Regions from separate parts of the Homo sapiens genome. Here region 2 is linked to region 1. Evidence: fine-mapped expression QTL. A gene starts in region 1. The other region holds a variant in brackets. All regions are shown on one strand. Distances are between the middles of the regions. Region 1 holds the start of GMPR (guanosine monophosphate reductase). Region 2 overlaps GMPR (guanosine monophosphate reductase).

The links. PIP is the estimated chance that this variant, and not a neighbour inherited with it, causes the effect.
Region 2: its variant is the best candidate, but not a certain one, in a credible set for the expression of GMPR in whole blood (TOPMed, PIP 0.78).

The regions. Positions count from the first base shown.
Region 1 is chr6:16,232,806-16,241,849 of GRCh38, forward strand. GMPR (guanosine monophosphate reductase) reads left to right here and starts at 5,782. Exons shown (of 9, transcript NM_006877.4): 1 at 5,782-5,975. The coding sequence starts at 5,889. RefSeq lists silencers at 5,565-5,664, 5,785-5,884.
Region 2 is chr6:16,274,614-16,282,613 of GRCh38, forward strand. It overlaps GMPR (guanosine monophosphate reductase), which reads left to right. Exons shown (of 9, transcript NM_006877.4): 6 at 4,171-4,277. Among named protein-coding and RNA genes, the nearest start is that of GMPR, 40 kb to the left of the region's middle. RefSeq lists an enhancer at 2,705-2,999. The variant C/T (reference allele first, on the strand shown) is at 3,663.

The DNA.
Region 1 (9,044 bases):
CAAGAGACAAGCAAATTGAATTTATATCTACTTTCTCTGCAAAAATTGAGCTGGAAAAGCGAGGCATTATTCTCAGTGTGTATTGTCCATCAGGGATGGCAAATTTAAACAACTGTTTATGTGCCAGGAGGGTCGAGTCAGGTTTATGCATTAGAGATCACCCATCCACCCCATCTAAAGAGACAACATTGATTCACTCTAGCAGATGGCAGACCTCTGAGGGGATGAACACCCTGCTAGGCCTCCCAGTTTTTAAAAGTAAGCTGGCTGGCCAGGTGCGGAGGCTCACACCTGTAATCCCAGCACTTTGGGAGGCCGAGGCAGGCGGATCACGAGGTCAAGAGATCAAGACCATCCTGGCCAACATGGTGAAACCCCGTCTCTACTAAAAATACAAAAATTAGCCGGGCATGGTGGAGCACACCTGTAGTTCCAGCTACTCCAGAGGCTGAGGCAGGAAAATCATTTGAGCCCGAGAGGTGGAGGTTGTAGTGTAGGTTGTCTATTCATGCCCTTAGCCCACTTTTTGCAATTGTGAATTGTGCTGCTATAAACGTGTGTGCAAATATCTTTTTCGAATAATTTATTTTCCTCTGGGTAGATATCTAGTAGTGGGATTGCTGGATCAAATAGTAGTTCTGCTTTTAATTATTTAAGGAATCTCCACACTGTTTTCCATAGTGGTTGTACTAGTTTATATTCCCACCAGCAGTGTAGAAGTGTTTCATGTTCACCGCATCCACACCAACATCTATTGTTTTTTTTTTTTTTTTCATTTTTCTTTTTAGGATGGAGTCTGACTCTGTCACCCAGGCTGAAGTGCAGTGACGTGATCTCTGCTCACTGTAACCTCTGCCTTCCGGGTTCAAGCAATTCTTCTGCCTCAGCCTCCCGAGTAGCTGAGACTACAGGCACGTGCCACCACGCCCGGCTAATTTTTGTATTTTTAGTAGAGATGGGGTTTCACTGTGTTAGCCAGGATGGTCTGGATCCACCTGCCTTGGCCTTCCAAAGTGCTGGGATTACAGGTGCAAGCCACCGTGCCCAGCCACCAACACCTAATGTTTTTTGATTTTTTGAGTATGGCCATTCTTGCAGGAATAAGGTGGTACCGCATTGTGGTTTTGATTTGCATTTCCCCCATCATTAGTGATGTTAAGCATTTTTTTGTGTGTTCGTTGTCCATTTGTATATCTTCTTTTGAGAATTGTCTATTCATGCCCTTAGCCCACTTTTTGATGGGATTGTCTTTTTCTTACTGATTTGTTTGAGTTTGTTGTAGATTCTGGATGTTAGTCCATTGTCAGATGTATAGATTGTGAATTTTCTCCCACTCTGTGGGTTGTCGGTTTACTCTGCTCACTGTTCCCTTTGCCATGCTCTTTAGTTTAATTAGGTCCCAGCTATTTATCTTTTTTTTTTATTGCATTTGCTTTGGGTTCTTGGTCACGAAATCCTTGCCAATGTCTAGAAGGGTTTTTCCAATGTTATCTTCTATAATTTTTATAGTTTCAGGTCTTAGGTTTAAGTTCTTAATCCACCTTCTTCTTCTTTTTTTGAGATGGAGTCTCACACTGTCGCCCAGGCTGGAGTGCAGTGGCCCAATCTCGGCTCACTGCAAACTCCATCTCCCGGGTTCAAGCAATTCTCCCACCTCAGCTTCCCGAGTACCTGGGACTACAGACCGGTGTCACCATGCCCAGCTAATTTTTGTATTTTTAGTGGGGACAGGGTTGCACCATGTTGGCCAGGCTAGTCTCAAACTCCTGACCTCAGATGATCTGCCTGCCTCAGCCTCCCTAAGTGTTGGGATTACAGGCATGAGCCACCTCACCCGGCCCCTTAATCCATGTTGAGTTGATTTTTGTATAAGGTGAGAGATGAGGATCCAGTTTCATTCTCCTACATGTGACTAGCCAATTATCCCAGCACCATTTGTTGAAAAGGGTGTCCTTTTTCCACTTCATGTTTTAGTTTGCTTTGTTGAAGATCAATTGGCTGTAGGTATGTAGGTTTATTTCTGGGTTCTTTATTGTTTTCCGCTGGTCTATGTGCCCATTTTTATACCAGTACCAGCACCATGCTGTTTTGGTGACTATGGCCTTATAGTATAGTTTGAAATCAGGTAGTGTGATGCCTCCAGATTTGCTCTTATCCCTTAATATTAAATACTATAATTCTGAATTATCAAAAAGCCTTTAATACTTAACTTTATTTCTGGGTTTTGAGAGATACTTATTTACTAAAAATAAACCATTTTATCACTTCACATAATTTTAGTTCACTGGTTAATTCTATTAAATATTTAAAGAACTAATCCCAAGCCTACACAAGCTCTTTCAGAAAACAGAGCGTGGAACATTTCCCAACTAATTCTATGAGGCCACTATTACCCTGATAAAGGCATCAAAAGAAAAGAAAACTACAGAGTAATGTCCCTTATAAGCTCAGATGCACAAATCCTTAACAAAATATTAGCAAATAGGATCCATCAATACAAAAAAGGATTATGCACTGTGACCAAGTGGAATTTATCCCACATAATTTTGGAGGTTATCTTCCCATGTAATTTTGGGGATAACCCTCCCCTCCCATAATAAAATGTTAATAAATTGAACTCTGGATATCACTTATGGCTTTGTCTAGACAGTGAAAACTTTAACATAAAGTCATTGTACTGATGGGAAACTATTATTGTTGTATTAGAGTAATGAGAAGCAGAGGATGTTGAAAGGAGTCTCAGTTGGTGTGGGAGTGGAACTGCCCTATGTGTTCTTCTTGCCTGCTGCATAGATAGAGCCAATTTACTGAGACAGCATTACTGCAATACAGAAAGAGTTTAATAAATGCAGAGCCAGCTAACAGGAGACTGGAGTTTTATTGCTCAAATCAGTCTCCCCAAAAATTCAGAGACCAGGCTTTTTTAAGGATAATTTGGTGGGCAGGAACTAGGGAGTGGGGAATGCTGATTGGTCAGGTAAGGGATGAAATAATAGGCTGTTGAAGTGGGTTTTCCTTGCTGTCTTCCGTTTCCGAGTGGGATCACAGAACTAGCTGAGCCAGTTTACTGGTCAGGGTGGTGCCAGCTGGTCCATCAGAATGGGGGGACTGACTGAAACATATCTCTAACACCAATCTTAGGTTTTCAATAGTGATGTTATTCATAGGAGCAACTGGGGAGGTTGGGAATCTTATGGCCTCTGGCTACATGATGCCTGAGCCATGATTTGTAATCTGTAGCTACTTTGTTAGTTTTACAAAGGTGCGCTGGTCCCCAAGCCAGGAGGGGGTTTGTTTTGGGAACGTGCTGTTCTCATCTTTGTTTCAAAGTTAAACTATAAACTCAATTCCTCCCATAGTTAGTTCAACCTACACCCAGGAATGAACAAGGACACCTTGGCGGTTAAAAGCAAGATGGAGTCAGTTAGGTCAGATTTCTTTCACTGTTGTCATTTTCCTATGTCAGATTTTTCTCACTGTCATAATTTTTGCAAAGCCGGTTTTAGAAGAATCAGGGACTCAGGCTGACTCTAACAGGAGTATGATTTTGTGTCAGAGAAGAGGGCAGTTATAGAGGAATGTTCCAGAGGGAGAGGGAATGGAATGTGTAAAATGAACTTCTCTGTCTATTCTAATAAAAGGAGGGCTAGCCAGAAAGAAAGAGAACCAGAGGGAAAGAGCAAGGACAACCTACAGAAGCTTCTCCTTTAAGACCATGTATGAAACAATGAATAAAGCCCTCATCCACGCTGGCAGATGCTTAACAAGGTCAGTTTCTCTTCCCTTTAAGGATAATAATTTAAAAATAATCATACCATCTAGTAATTATATTTTACCTCTATTTAATCTTTAAAAGATCAGAATTAGGTTTCCTTTCCGTACTTCACAAATAAGCAGCACATCTGGCCAGCTCCCAAGAATTCGTCAAGGGTTATAAACATTGCATGGGCTGGACTAATTGTGGCTACTTTCATTCTCTCTGATAAGTTTCATTTCCTTCCCTGAAACTTCATGAACTTCCTTTGGGGTATAGCTAATGAAACCATGTGGGATGGGCTGAGACCTTTATCATCTTCAGACATTTGTGTTAAATTGAATATTGTGATGTATCTTTTATGGTCAGCCTTATCACATGCTAGCTCAAGGAGAACAGTTGCTAGCTCAGTTCGAGGCTGCAGAAAAATGGAAGAGAATGAAAGATGATTCTTGCCTTTGTGCAGTTAGCATTCTAGTTTGAAAATACAAACACAATGCACATAATGTAACATGTGACTACAAATCTGTAACTACCATGCATTGAGCAACTACTATGGGACAGACATTGTGCTTACATAAACACACACACTTTAATTCTCACAAAAACCAGGGAGGAGATAGGGTTAACCCCCCCTCCTGCCCCCACCCCTTTTATGAGAAAACTGAGACTTAGAGAAATTGACTCCCCTAAGGTCACCTAGCTAGACAGTGGTGGAACCAGGTTTCAAACTCAGGCAGAGATGTTCCAGGACAAAAGCAGCTTCAGTGAATAGTTGTAGCAAGTTTTAAGGACTGAGAAATTTATATTGAATTTTTCTGCGGCCTTAGGCAAGTTATTTCATTTATAGAAGCCTCGTTTTTCCTTATCTGTGAAATGGCTCTTTCTTCATTGGGTTGTTCTGAGAGTGAATGAGATGATGCATGAAGCCCGGCAGCACATTTCAAATGTATAATAAAAGGTCGGTAAGGTCAATAAGTGAATCAATGAACTCACATCACTGGTAACCCCTCGAACTCACATCACTGGTAACCCTCAGAGGGGACTCAGGCTCCTCAAATCTCAGGATCTGCGTCGACTACAGACCTCACTGTTTTTCTTAAACAAAAATCCTGAAATCCAGGCTGGGCGCAGTGGCTCACGCCAGTAGTCCCAACACTGGGAAGCTGAGGCGGGAGGATTGCTTGAACCCAGTAGTTCAAGACCAGCCTGGGCAACACAGTGAGACCTTGTCTCTTAACAACAAGTCCAAAGGGAATCATGGCCTCCACAATCCCAGTACAGCTAAACAGTTAACTGCCCACGTTCTTTTCCTTAATTCTATACAACCTCCCTGGGGTTTCTGGTTCTTTGGCAAGTGAGAGACGTGCTCCTCAACACTGGGTGAGCACACCGGGCTTGAATTTTAAAAAAGGAGAATCCGCCGGGCACGGTGGCTCACGCCTGTAATCCCAGCACTTTGGGAGGCCGAGGCAGGCGGATCACTTGAGGTCAGGGGCTCGAGACCAGCTTGGGCAATATGGTGAAACCCCGCCTCTAGGAAATAATTTTTAAAATAAGCTGGGTGTGGCGGCGTGCGCCTGTACTCGAGGAGGCTGAGGCATGAGAATCGTTTGAGCCCAGGAAGTCGAGGCTGCGATGAGCGGCGATAGCGCCACTCACTCCAGCCTGAGCGACAGTGAGACTGTCTCAAAAAAAAAAAAAAAAAAGTAAAAGCTCTCAGGGAGCGACTTTTCCCTTGGATAAGGCAGCCACACGCTAAGTCCCCTCTCCATCGGGGACCCTGGGGACAAACAGAACGGTGCGCATTTCCCTCCCCCGTCCCCATTCGGTCACTGCCACGGGCTGTACACCTGAGGGGGAAGGACGGGGGCGGCGGCGCGAGGAGGAAGGGCTTCGCCGCCAATCTGTCCCTAACCAGTCTGCCTCTCAACCCCTGCCTGAGGCGGAGGCGGTGCCCGGGGCGGGCCAAGCGTGACCGCGGGTCGGCGGGGCGTGTTTAAGACCGCGGCGTGCGCACCCGGCCCACGCCAGCTCCCGGCCGCGGCACAGCAGCCCCGGCGCTCCCCGCGCCGCCCCGCGCAGGCGCCCCCGCCCCGCCGTCGCCGCCGCCGCAGCCAGGAGCCGCTGCACCATGCCCCGCATAGATGCGGACCTCAAGCTCGACTTCAAGGATGTCCTGCTCCGACCTAAGCGGAGCAGCCTCAAGAGCCGAGCCGAGGTGGGGGACGTTCGGAAGTCGCAGTGGGGTGGGATTTTTTTTTCCGGGTGGCGCGGGGCAAGTGGGTGGAAGGGGGTGGCACCGGGTTACCCTGCCTGCTTTGGTGTTTGAGACTGGGGCGCTGCGCCCCCGTTCCCGCGCCCCAGCACCTGCCAGGACGTGAGGTGTCTTTAAGGGCGGTGATACGGGGGCCCATGAAATTCTCTACACGTCGGTCCCGTTGGGTGGCCTAGGGGAAGTTCACAGTGAAACTCGACCACAGATGAGCGAGATCCAGTGGCCAGTTGGTTTAGAAGGAATAGGGGTACGAGGGCGCTTATAGCAAGAAAAGGAAACTGGAGCTAGGGGAGAGAGGACGAGAAAAACAACTGCAGATCCCGGTGATTTTTGGCTGCGTCTCCTAGTGCTGATAATTGCTGCTGCTTTCGCTTCGGGTCCAGCGGTGGAACTTCGTGAACGCGTCTGAAAAACCAGAACCCAGGGCACAAGTTCAGGGTTTCCTTTCTGAGTTTGGCGGCCTTGCTGGCAGTGGGGCTTGGGGACTCAGCGGTACTGGACAGCCCGCGGTCCCAGCCTAGCCCTGGAGAAGAGTTTCGAAAGCTTTGGGGTGAGAGAGGTGGGGGCGAATTGGAAGCCTCGGGCATTTCCCTGGTTCTGCCTGGATGTCCTCAAATCCTAAGGAACAGGTGGAGACCGGACTGGAAATAGCCTGAGGCTGGGGGAAGGGAGGCCAGTCCCTGAAGGATAAACTAGTTGCCTGAAAGGCAGAGTGCCCCGGGGTGGTGTGCGCTGGTGACTGGCTTTGCTGAGAGCTGGAGAGGAAGGTGAGGAAACCGGACACGGTTGAAGGCTGGGGCTGAAGGAGTAAACACGAGGAGGCTGGGCCAACCTGCACAGCTCCGTCCACTCAGCTCCACAAACAAGACCATAAATAAATCCCCTCAGCAAAGAAGTCCGCTGCCCACTCCGGTGCCAGGCCTAACTGCAGTGCCTGGGGCTGCCAGCCGAGGGCTTGCTTGGATTGGGGAAGCCTCCGCGTTAGCCAATGACTAAACCAAGTGGCCTTCTGTAAGCAGCAGCATTGGCTGGTTTGGAGCCCGGCAGGACTGGAGGACGTAGGGGAGGAATGATTAAAACTTATCGCCCCAGATTGGGTGACCCTGTGCCTGTCCCTCATGACCTTTCAGGTGCTAAAGAGGGGGCCTCTCTTGGAACAAAAACAGTTTGGAGGGCAGGCCTGGGCCTCTGGAAGCATGAGCTGTAGCCAATTCCTAAGGCAAGACCAAGATGAAATAGGGGGATTCTGGATGTGCTAATAATTTGGTGGCCTCAATATTCTTTAAATATTCAAAATGTATTTAGAAGAGAGAAACTCATTTTTCAGAAAATTGGATGTTCAAAACAAAGATATACCTATTTTCTGAACCAGAAAACATGTTGAGAAGGTAAAATATTGAACATTAATGTAATAGGGCCAGGCACAGTAGCTCACACCTGTAATCCCAGCACTTTAGGAACCTGAGGTGGAAGGATTGCTTGAGGCCAGGAGTTCGAGGCCAGCCTAGGCAACAAAGCAAGACCTCAGCTCTACAAAAATTTAAAAAATCAGCCAGGGCAGTTGTGCACACCTCTAGTCCCAGCTATTTGGAAGGCTGAGGCGGGAGGATGGCTTGAGCCCACGAGCTGGAGATTACAACAAAAATTTAAAAAATTAGGGCAGTGGTGCTCACCTGTAGTCCCAGCTACTTGGAAGGCTGAGGCGGGAGGATGGCTTGAGCCCAGGAGCTGGAGGTTACAGTGAGCTATGATGGTGCCACTGCACTTCAGCCTGGACAACCCTGTCTCTAAAGCTAAAATGAAATTTATGTAATAGAATGAATTACTCCTTCTCGGGGAATACTATCACATCATGCGACAATGTCATGCAACACTTGGCTTCATAATTTGGGCAGATTGTAACTAATGTTCCAGTTTGGGATAGCATCTTTGCAATCTTCATGTACACATTGCAGTGAGAACTCAGTGCCCTTGAGGAGTCTCTTTTGTATTTTTATGTTCGTGGGAGTTTGCCAGCCACGGGCCTGGAGACTCAGGTTAACCAGCATTGCCTTTCTAATCGGTTGCCGTGATGGTTTAGCTCCCTGATGCGTGAGGCTGCTGCCTGGCTGGCCACCCCCATGATCTGACTTTACTTGCCTCGGTGGCGTTGAGGGATCTAGTTAGGCCTCCCTAATCCCCTCTCAATGTTTTCTCAGTTTGCTTGTTGATGCCTGAAATTTTTCACAGGCAGATAAAAACTTTTCCTTGCACAATCAGAAGCTTAAAATATGTGCATCCTGGCAGAAGTAATATCTGGAGGCAAATTGGAAACTGAAGGGTAGATGACCGACATTGAGCCTAACAGCAGATTTGTACAGAGCCAGGAAAGAGAACGTACACCCTGGGAGTAGAGTCTGGCTGAGGGAGGAGGGTTTTGACAGCTGATGATGGGCTTATCCTCGTGACAGTTTTGCTAAGAGCCAGGCCCAGCAATGGATCATCAGGCTATAGCAGGAAACGGACAGTAAGAGTGATCTCCCCCTCAGAAGCTTCAGGACTCCTGCAAGGACATTTCCACCAGCCTTCCATAAATGAACATGAATGAGATGAATCTGAGGTCACCTCTGAGAGGCAAAGAATACAGGTAGCAGTGGCCCAGGTGGCCTTCGCCTGGATTCTCCAGGGAGGCATTCATCTCTCAAATGTCCAGCCCCTGGCATGGAAGAATAAAGCGCCACAGGGTCATGTGGGGACATTTGGATAATCTTTTTCTGAGAAGTGATGAGTTTGTGGATTGAGACAAGACCTTTGTTTTCATCTGTTACGCTGGGGAGCCTGCATTCTCCCTGAGTGTTTTCTTCCTTAGTACCCATTTCTGGCTCTAACATTCTACTCTAGTCCTTAAGCTAGTAAGAATGTACTTATTTATTTATTTATTTAGAGACGGAGTCTCACTCTGTCACCCAGGCTGGAGTGCAGTGGTGTGATCTTGGCTCGCTGCAACCTCCGCCTCCTGGGTTCAAGCGATTC
Region 2 (8,000 bases), 41 kb after region 1:
AGCATGCTTTTTCTGGAAGCATAATTGAGCTTCTCGGGGAAGCCCCTGATGAAAAGTATTGTTGAGCTGCTTTTTGATGCCCCCAGGGATTTTCTAAATTATGGTTAGAATATATGGATGTGGTCAGAATATGAGGGCTTGGTTTCAGAACCAATGTGGAAGAATGTAGATTTCACTAATGACCCCATACACCTTGCAGAGGAAGGCGATAGGTGAAGAATCCATAGAGACAGTTAATAAACATGAATGACTCCAGTTTATGTGAATGTTTGAGGGACCCCAAACATTGCAAATAAGCTTGCAGTGATGAGGCCACATTCAAACTTGACCCATGGCCTAGGTAATGATCACCTTTGGTTACTCACCTGATACGTATTAGATGTAGATTTTGCCCATGTTCTTCTCCCAGGCATGCTTTCTTAGGACCACCCATTGGCATCTTAAGCAGAAGAACGAGGTAGAGCCTTCTGTCCTTGTCATGGGTGGCGCCATTTTCTCATGGGGCAGGGTTACTGTTCGCTTTCCTTCTTTGCCCTGCTTGAAGATGAGCTGCCATGTTTTAAATTCATCCGTGCACATCCAGTATTAACCAGACACTAAAATTGAGGAGCAAGAAAGAATATACACATTTTCACTTGGGACTGAAAAACAGCAAAGATTTTTCAAAAGAATCTCATACCCAAATGACACTACCAAAAAAGGAAGCAAACCTAAACCAATATGAGAGGAATCTGTGGGAAAACGCACAGCTGGGAGGCGCAGGAGACGCTGTTGAGCTGTGACTTGGCTCCGTGATCAGCCTGAGGGAATTGGATGTGTATGAAGAGAATATTAGGAAGAAGAACCCTGTAGATTCGTAAAAATACCCAAGCTTTTAACATACAGGGAGATTTTCAAGGTTAAGTTTTTCATATTGCCACTCATTTAAGCCAGTTAATAATGTATTCTGAGCAAATGGGAAGAGGTCTTTACTGAGTATCTACCATTATTGAAAAGGCAAGAAAGGATAAGGCCTCGTTCTTCCTTTCCAGGCTGCCTCCTCTTAGGGCAGGCTGTAATAGACAGACTGATAATAGAACAAAATAGGCTAATAGATTAGGAAGACTCTTTTTAGTCCCAAAGGCAGGGACACTCACTAGTCACCTGTTTAATCAGAAATATGGGCCTGATGTGGTGGCTCACGCCTGGTCTCCCAGCACTTTGGGAGGCCAAGGTGGGTGGATCGCTTGAGCCCAGGAGTTTGAGACCAGCCTGGGCAACATGGTGAAACTCTGTCTCTACTAAAAATAGGAGATAAAAATTAAAAAGTAGTCAGGCACAGTGGTATGCACCTGTAGTCTCAGCTACTTGGGAGGCTAGGGTGGAACGATCAGCTGATCCTGGGAGGTGAAGGTTGCAGTAAGCTGAGATCGCACTACTGCACTCCAGTCTTGGTGATAGAGCAAGACCCTGTCTCAAGAAAAAAAAAAGGAAATATGTATTGAATGTTCACTGGCTACCATTGTGTTGGGCGGGTGCTGTACAGGATGTGAAGGTGTGTGAGAAGCTTCTTGGCTCTCAAAGCTTTATTTTTTTTGAGACAGTCTTGCTCTGTTGCCCAGGCTGGAGTGCAGTGGTGTGATCTCAGCTCACTGCAACCTTCGCCTCAGAGGTTCAAGTGATTCTTCTGCCTCAGCCTCCTGAGTAACTGGGATTACAGGCATGCACCACCATGCCCAGCTAATTTTTTGTACTTTTAGTGGAGACGGGGTTTCACCATGTTGGCCAGGCTGGTCTCGAACTCCTGGCCTCAGGTGATCCACCCGCCTTGGCCTCCCAACGTGCTGGGATTCCAGGTGTGAGCCACCACACCCGGCCCTCTCAAAGCTTTTCTAGATGTGGTCTCGAACATTTACTACACTTGTTTTCTTCTTGCACATCTCTGTGTCTGCATTCTATTTCCCCAGAAGCTGTATTGTCCTTCTGCTCTCACTGTATCTCCCCACCCCTCTGGCTGTCTGTGTAGGACAGATGTGACTAAAGAGAATAAGGGGCTTTCTCTGAGCCCAATGCATGGGAGCTACTTCTTTAAATTGTTTGGAGACCATATTTAAGTCTCACACATTCTTTATGGTAAAAACATTGCATATTACATATCTAAATGATAGCATTATTGGATGTCTATTGATTGATAGATTTCATTCATTATTGAGCAACTCCTGGGAACTGGGAAAAAGCATCAGAAACGGATTCCCTGCCCCTCTAGTCAAGAGAAAGTATGCACCAACTTCTTCTTTCACCTAGGTGTTAATCAGAACCGCCTGTGTGTTATTTGAAGCTTCTTCCTTGGCTGTTTCCAAGAAAGGCAATTGGTCTACCCTTTATAGAGCCCTCACTACTATCAGAACCCCAGGCCTACTGCAGCTGAGGCCCCCACCCCCGGATCTAGCAATTCAATGGGAGAGGAGGAGAAAAGCTGAGGCTGAACCGGGGGTTAAACCTTTTATTCTGCCGTGCACAACGTCTGGTTGCAGGGCGGGGGGAAGGCGCCTTCGTGGGAATGAGACTTCTTGGCTCCAGGACTGTGAGTGACACATAGCAGGACACAGGGAGCTACAGGACTTCTGTGGACTCTGCCCCACAGCTGATGCAGGAGAGGGGCTTGCCCTGTCTCTCCTGGTTTCTCTGCTAAATCCAGGCCTGGGGACACAGACATACTTCTCTGTCTGATCTTGTCCCTAAAGACCCCTGGCAGAAATTAGCATCCTACAAGGTGGTGCCGGCCAGGAGCCGGAGATTAGGCTGCGCCTCAAAGCATCCCACCCCCGGGTCTGGTGGGAGGGAGGAGTTCACTTCCACCTTTACCCTGTCCCCAGAGCGCCCTCTCGTGCACACCACAAGACCTCCGGGAGGGGCTGAGTGAGTGGCAGTGGAGACAGGGATGTGGGTGACTCATTCATTCTTGAGTCCACACATTCTTTCAGTGACTATTTATAGTGCCTTATTGTATATGAGGCTCTGTTCTCAGCACCTGATAACAACAGCGAATGTCCACGGAGCCGACCACCCAGTACAGAAGACAGACCCTTAACATTCTCACACAGATCCTGATTGAAATGCCTCTTTTTGAAACTGTGATGAACAACTCCCCTGGGGCAGTGACATTTAAGAAGAAGCTGGAAAGATGAGAAGGGTTTGGCTAGGCGGGCTGGTACAGAGGGGAGTGTCCAAGAGAGAGAACATTGTGTACAGAGTCCCTAAGGTGGGAAGAAACTTGCCCCATTGGAGAAGCAGTGGGGAGGGAGGGGAGCAGGTGGAGCTTGATTCTGCTGATCTGGGTAAAGTGGGGTGCTGTGGCGGCACCGGGAAGCTTGAATAAGGGGAGGTATGATAAAGAGGTCAGAGTGCGACTTGGCCTGGACCTAACTGGGAGAACAACCAGGACTGGGGCTGACCGTGGGACAGGCAGGCAGGAGGGTGCTGGTGTGAGCCCTGGCCTGGAAGTGAACCTCGGGCTAGGCTGCAAGGGACTTGAGGTGGGGCAGCCAGGAGGGAGATGGACAAACAGCTGGGCCCTGTGGAGCACAGAGCTGAGTGAGAGCAGGTGAGGGTATGGAGGGTGTCGTGCTGCAGGCCAGGCCCTGGGCCAAGCGGTATCCCTCCCTGTGCCATTTGTTCTCTGC[C/T]ACAACCCCAGGAGGTTGTGTTTCTCTTTGGATTTTACAGGCCGGGCAGTGAGGCTTAAGAGAGGTGAGTCATTTGACAAAGGTTGAAGGTAAAGAAGCTACGAGCCAGTGGGAGGATTCTGAGAGGTCCTTTAAAGCAGAGTGTAGATTTGTAGAAAGGTGGAAAGGAGTGGGTGTTTAAGTGTGGAAAGGTCAGTGCCTGGCTATTGCATGGGAGCCAGTGCCACAGGGAGGAGTGGCAGTGACAGGTGCATGGTAGAGGGGAAGGCGATGTCTGGGACATCAGCCAGTGACAGTGATGAGGACCGGAGGGGGTGCATGACCAGGTGGTGTGGTTTACAGTGACCTCCATCGTGCAGATGGGGCAGCCTGTTCCCCACATCTCCTCTGCCACAGAGGTTCACCCTGGTCCCTAAAGCAGGGCTGCAAAGGTAAGGGGGACGCATTTCATGTCACAGTCTTCTCATGTATAACCATCTATTTGGGGACAACTTCTTTCTCTGTGCAGGTTCTGTGTGCACCACCCGCACCAAGACGGGAGTGGGGTACCCCCAGCTGAGTGCCGTCATTGAGTGTGCCGACTCTGCCCATGGCCTGAAGGGCCACATCATCTCTGTGAGTCTCCACCCGGGGCTGAGGCTGGGGTGTCTTGGGAGGCCCCTGCTCCCTCGCTGCTCTTCTTTCACTGGCTGGGCATCCTGTGGGCATGGGAGGGAGCTGGGCACTGCGGTCACAGCGCTGACATTCAGCAGAAACAGAGGCCCTGCTGCCCACGGATTCCACAGTGAGGGTGGCAGGCCCAGTAGGCAGAAGCCATACAAGCAGGTGGGTGGTCCATCTGATGAGGGATGTGCAGGCAGCTTTCAGAGCACAGGGTAGGCCAGGCCACAGCTTGCTAGAACAGTTGTAATAAAGCCCCACAGACTGGGGGCTTCAATTTCAGTGTCTCACCATTCTGGAGACGAGAAGCCCAACATCAGGGTGTTGGGGGGGGCATGCTCCCTCTCAGGGCCCCAGGGAAGGATCTGTTGCAGGCCTCTCTGTGACCTTCTGCTGGTTCCTTAGCTTGTGGCGTCCTCTGTGTGTGTGTCTCTGTGTGCAAACATCCCCTTTTCCTGAGGATACTAGTCCTTTCAGATCAGGGGCCACCCTCCTCCAGGATGTCCGCATCTTAACTGATGACGTGTCCATTGTTCCTGTTTCCAAATAAGGTCACATTCTGAGATGCTAGGGGTTAGGATGGCAACATGCGAGTTTTTGGGGGGACCCAGTTCAACCCATAACAGGCCACGTATCCCATATTCAGGGTCAGGGAAGGTTTCCTGGAGTGTAATAGAGAGAGCTGATGGTTGAAAAGGAAGTTTTCAGATGAGAAGAAAGAAGGGAACAGAAAAGCACTGGGGAACCAAATCTCAGTCACTGCATCTGGGGCGAGTGACCTGAGAGGGGCAGGCGTGAGGGGCAGCAGGAGATAAGCTTGAGGGCAAGTATGGACAAGAGCTGTGGGATCCACCTTTAAGGATGGGACTTCTCCAAGAGCACTAGGGAGCTATTGCAGAGGTCTGAGTAGGAGAGTGCCCAACTCACTGCCTTGGGTCAGATTGAAAGGGGCAAAATAAAAAAGAGAGCCCAGCTGGGACGCGTTAGTAATTCAGGAGGGGGAGGTGACTGTGCTCTGCAGCAGGCTTGAGAGCCATCTCCAGAATTGACTGACATTTGGGAGGCAGAATTAAACAAGTGTCGGCAATGGAGTAGGTGCTTGGGGGGCACTGGAGAAGGAGAAGGAGGAGCAAGGCTGTGGCTGGCTCATGTGCTGGCTCACCTGGAAGATGGCTGCAAAGGAAGAGGTTCGGGGCTGGTGTGGTGATCACTATGGCACGTGTCTGTTGATTCTGAGGTGCTTGAGGGGCATCAGAAGGGAAATTGCACATGAGGCATTGTGTTCATAGTTGGAGACCTGGCAGCTTTTAGCCCATAGATGATGAAAGTCTTGGGAATGGTGCTCAGGTAACAACTGAAGCTAGGATCAAGGTCTTTCACTCGCTGTCCAGTGCAGATTGCCTGGGCCCCTTCTAATGCCTCATCCAAATTTTTCACCCACCCATCCATTCATCCAGCAAGTCTCTATTAAGCATCTACTGTGATAGTATCTGAAATAAATGGTCAAAGGTTTATTGGTTAATGACAGAGTTCTAAGACTCTCCACTCAATACCCTTTGCCCCAGTGAACAAATTAATATCCATTTATTGAGCAACTAGTGTGTAAAAGGCTGACATAGAACTGTCGGTCTACATTTGCTAAGAGGTTATTCAACTCACGGGAGCGGCCAGGCAGTAGTACCATTCCGCAGTATGTCAGTGGTTCTCAAATCCTGAGTGCAGCCTTGTCTGAGTCTGGCTGCGTGAGGATCACCAGAGAGGCTTTTACAAATCAACATTCCGGGACCCCATCCTAGTGAACTGGCTCTTTCAGAGGTTAGTCCCCAAAATCCCCATATGTAATTAGTCCTGTCTCCATTACCTAATAATGTTAACCATTGAGCATCTCCATCAAGTCAAAACTTGGACCCTATATCGTAAGTGTTGAATGACCACTATTTCCAAAGTAGTGGAGTTCTGATTAATAAAGTTTTACTCTGAACATATTCTGAGATCCTTATGTCTTTCTAGAAACTTCAAACTTGCTTAGTTTACAGGGCTGTTTGGCCAAAGATTGGTGGTAGGCAGGGTGGGGTGGAGGCTCTGTGTGCCCCAGAGGTGAATCTGATTGGAAATCAACTTAGCATCTCTTTACACAGCACCACCTAATTTATAGTGTATCTCAGCAGTTCTCTTAAGCGTGGTGCCCAGACCAGCAGCAGCAGTATCAACTGAGAACTTGTTACAAATTCTTGGGCCCCACCATCGACGTGACCTACAGAATCAGAACTCTGCAGGTGAGGCCCAGGAACCTGTTTAAACACGAGCCCTCCAGGTAGTTCTGATGTCCTCTCAAGTGTGAGACCCACTGGCTTATAGAGTAGAGGCTCAGCATACGCTGGCGGGGTGAGTGTTCCTGAACCAGGTCTCATCTGCTGGTGCCCAAGGCAGCAACTTCTCTGAATTTAACAGTTAGGGACAATGACATCCCAAGCCTGGGGCACTGGTGCAATAGGAAGGTAGCACTTCTGATCTTGCTTGTGTTCTCTGAGGTTCTTTTTTTTCTTTTTAGTTTTTACTTTTTTATTTTATTTATTTTTTATTTTTTTGAGATGGAGTCTTGCTGTATCGCCCAGGCTGGAGTGCAGTGGCATGATCTCAGCTCCCTGCTAGAATGCCTCCCGGGTTCAAGCGATTCTCCTGCCTCAGCCTCCCGAGTAGCTGGGATTACAGGCACGCGCCACCACGCTCAGCCCATTTTTTTTTTGTATTTTTAGTAGAGGCAGGGTTTCACCATGCTGGCCAGGCTGGTCTCGAACTCCTGACCTCATGATCCGCCCGCCTCAGCCTCCCAAAGTGCTGGGATTACAGGCGTAAGCCACCGTGCCCGGCCTCCGAGTTTCCTTTTACGTCAATGCTGAGAGGTCTCCTAGATGGGGTTAGGAGTTCCATTTAGCTGGAAAAGCAAATGAATGGACTTAGTAGAATTTGGACCTTTGCCCTCAGCTCAGTCCTTGTAAGCAGCTGAGTGTCTTGAGGTTCAGAGCAGCCATTGCCCCCACACTCCCTTTGTCTAACAGGGCACGGGCACGTTTCTGTCACTTGCCAGTAGCCCTGAACCTGCTAGAAACCCACCAGGTGTTTTGGATCCTGCCACTTGGTCCAATTTCCTTCCAGCTGTCCCATTTTACCCTTTATTTGCTGAATTAGCACACTGGTGCCATTGAAGTTCAAAGGAAGCCACAACATGGTGTCTGTTGAGCATGTACTGATACCCAAGAGGCTGGGCTTCAGTCGTGTTTCTGTTGTGGCCCACATGGGCTTCAGAGAGGCAGAGGGAGGAAAAATTCAGGATACTTCCTGCATAGGTGAAGATTAAGGTGGGACCAGTTAATTTTTTGTTATCACACCATTATTTAGAAATACCTAAACAAATTCATTCAAATAATTAATCTTTTTTTTTGAGTCTGGAAAATTTTCCCAGCAAAATGTGTTTAACCTAGGAAAAGTTAGAAATGCAAATAAACATAAAAAGGAAAATAAGTATTAGCAGTAATGCTATCATCTTAAGATAACCACTGGTTCTAAACTTGTTTTTCCATTTTTATAGCTGTGTGACCTTAGGAGAGTTGCTTAACCTTTCTGAGCCTCTTTCCACCGTCCCCGCCGTCTACGCAATATCTCCTTCAGGTTCATGAG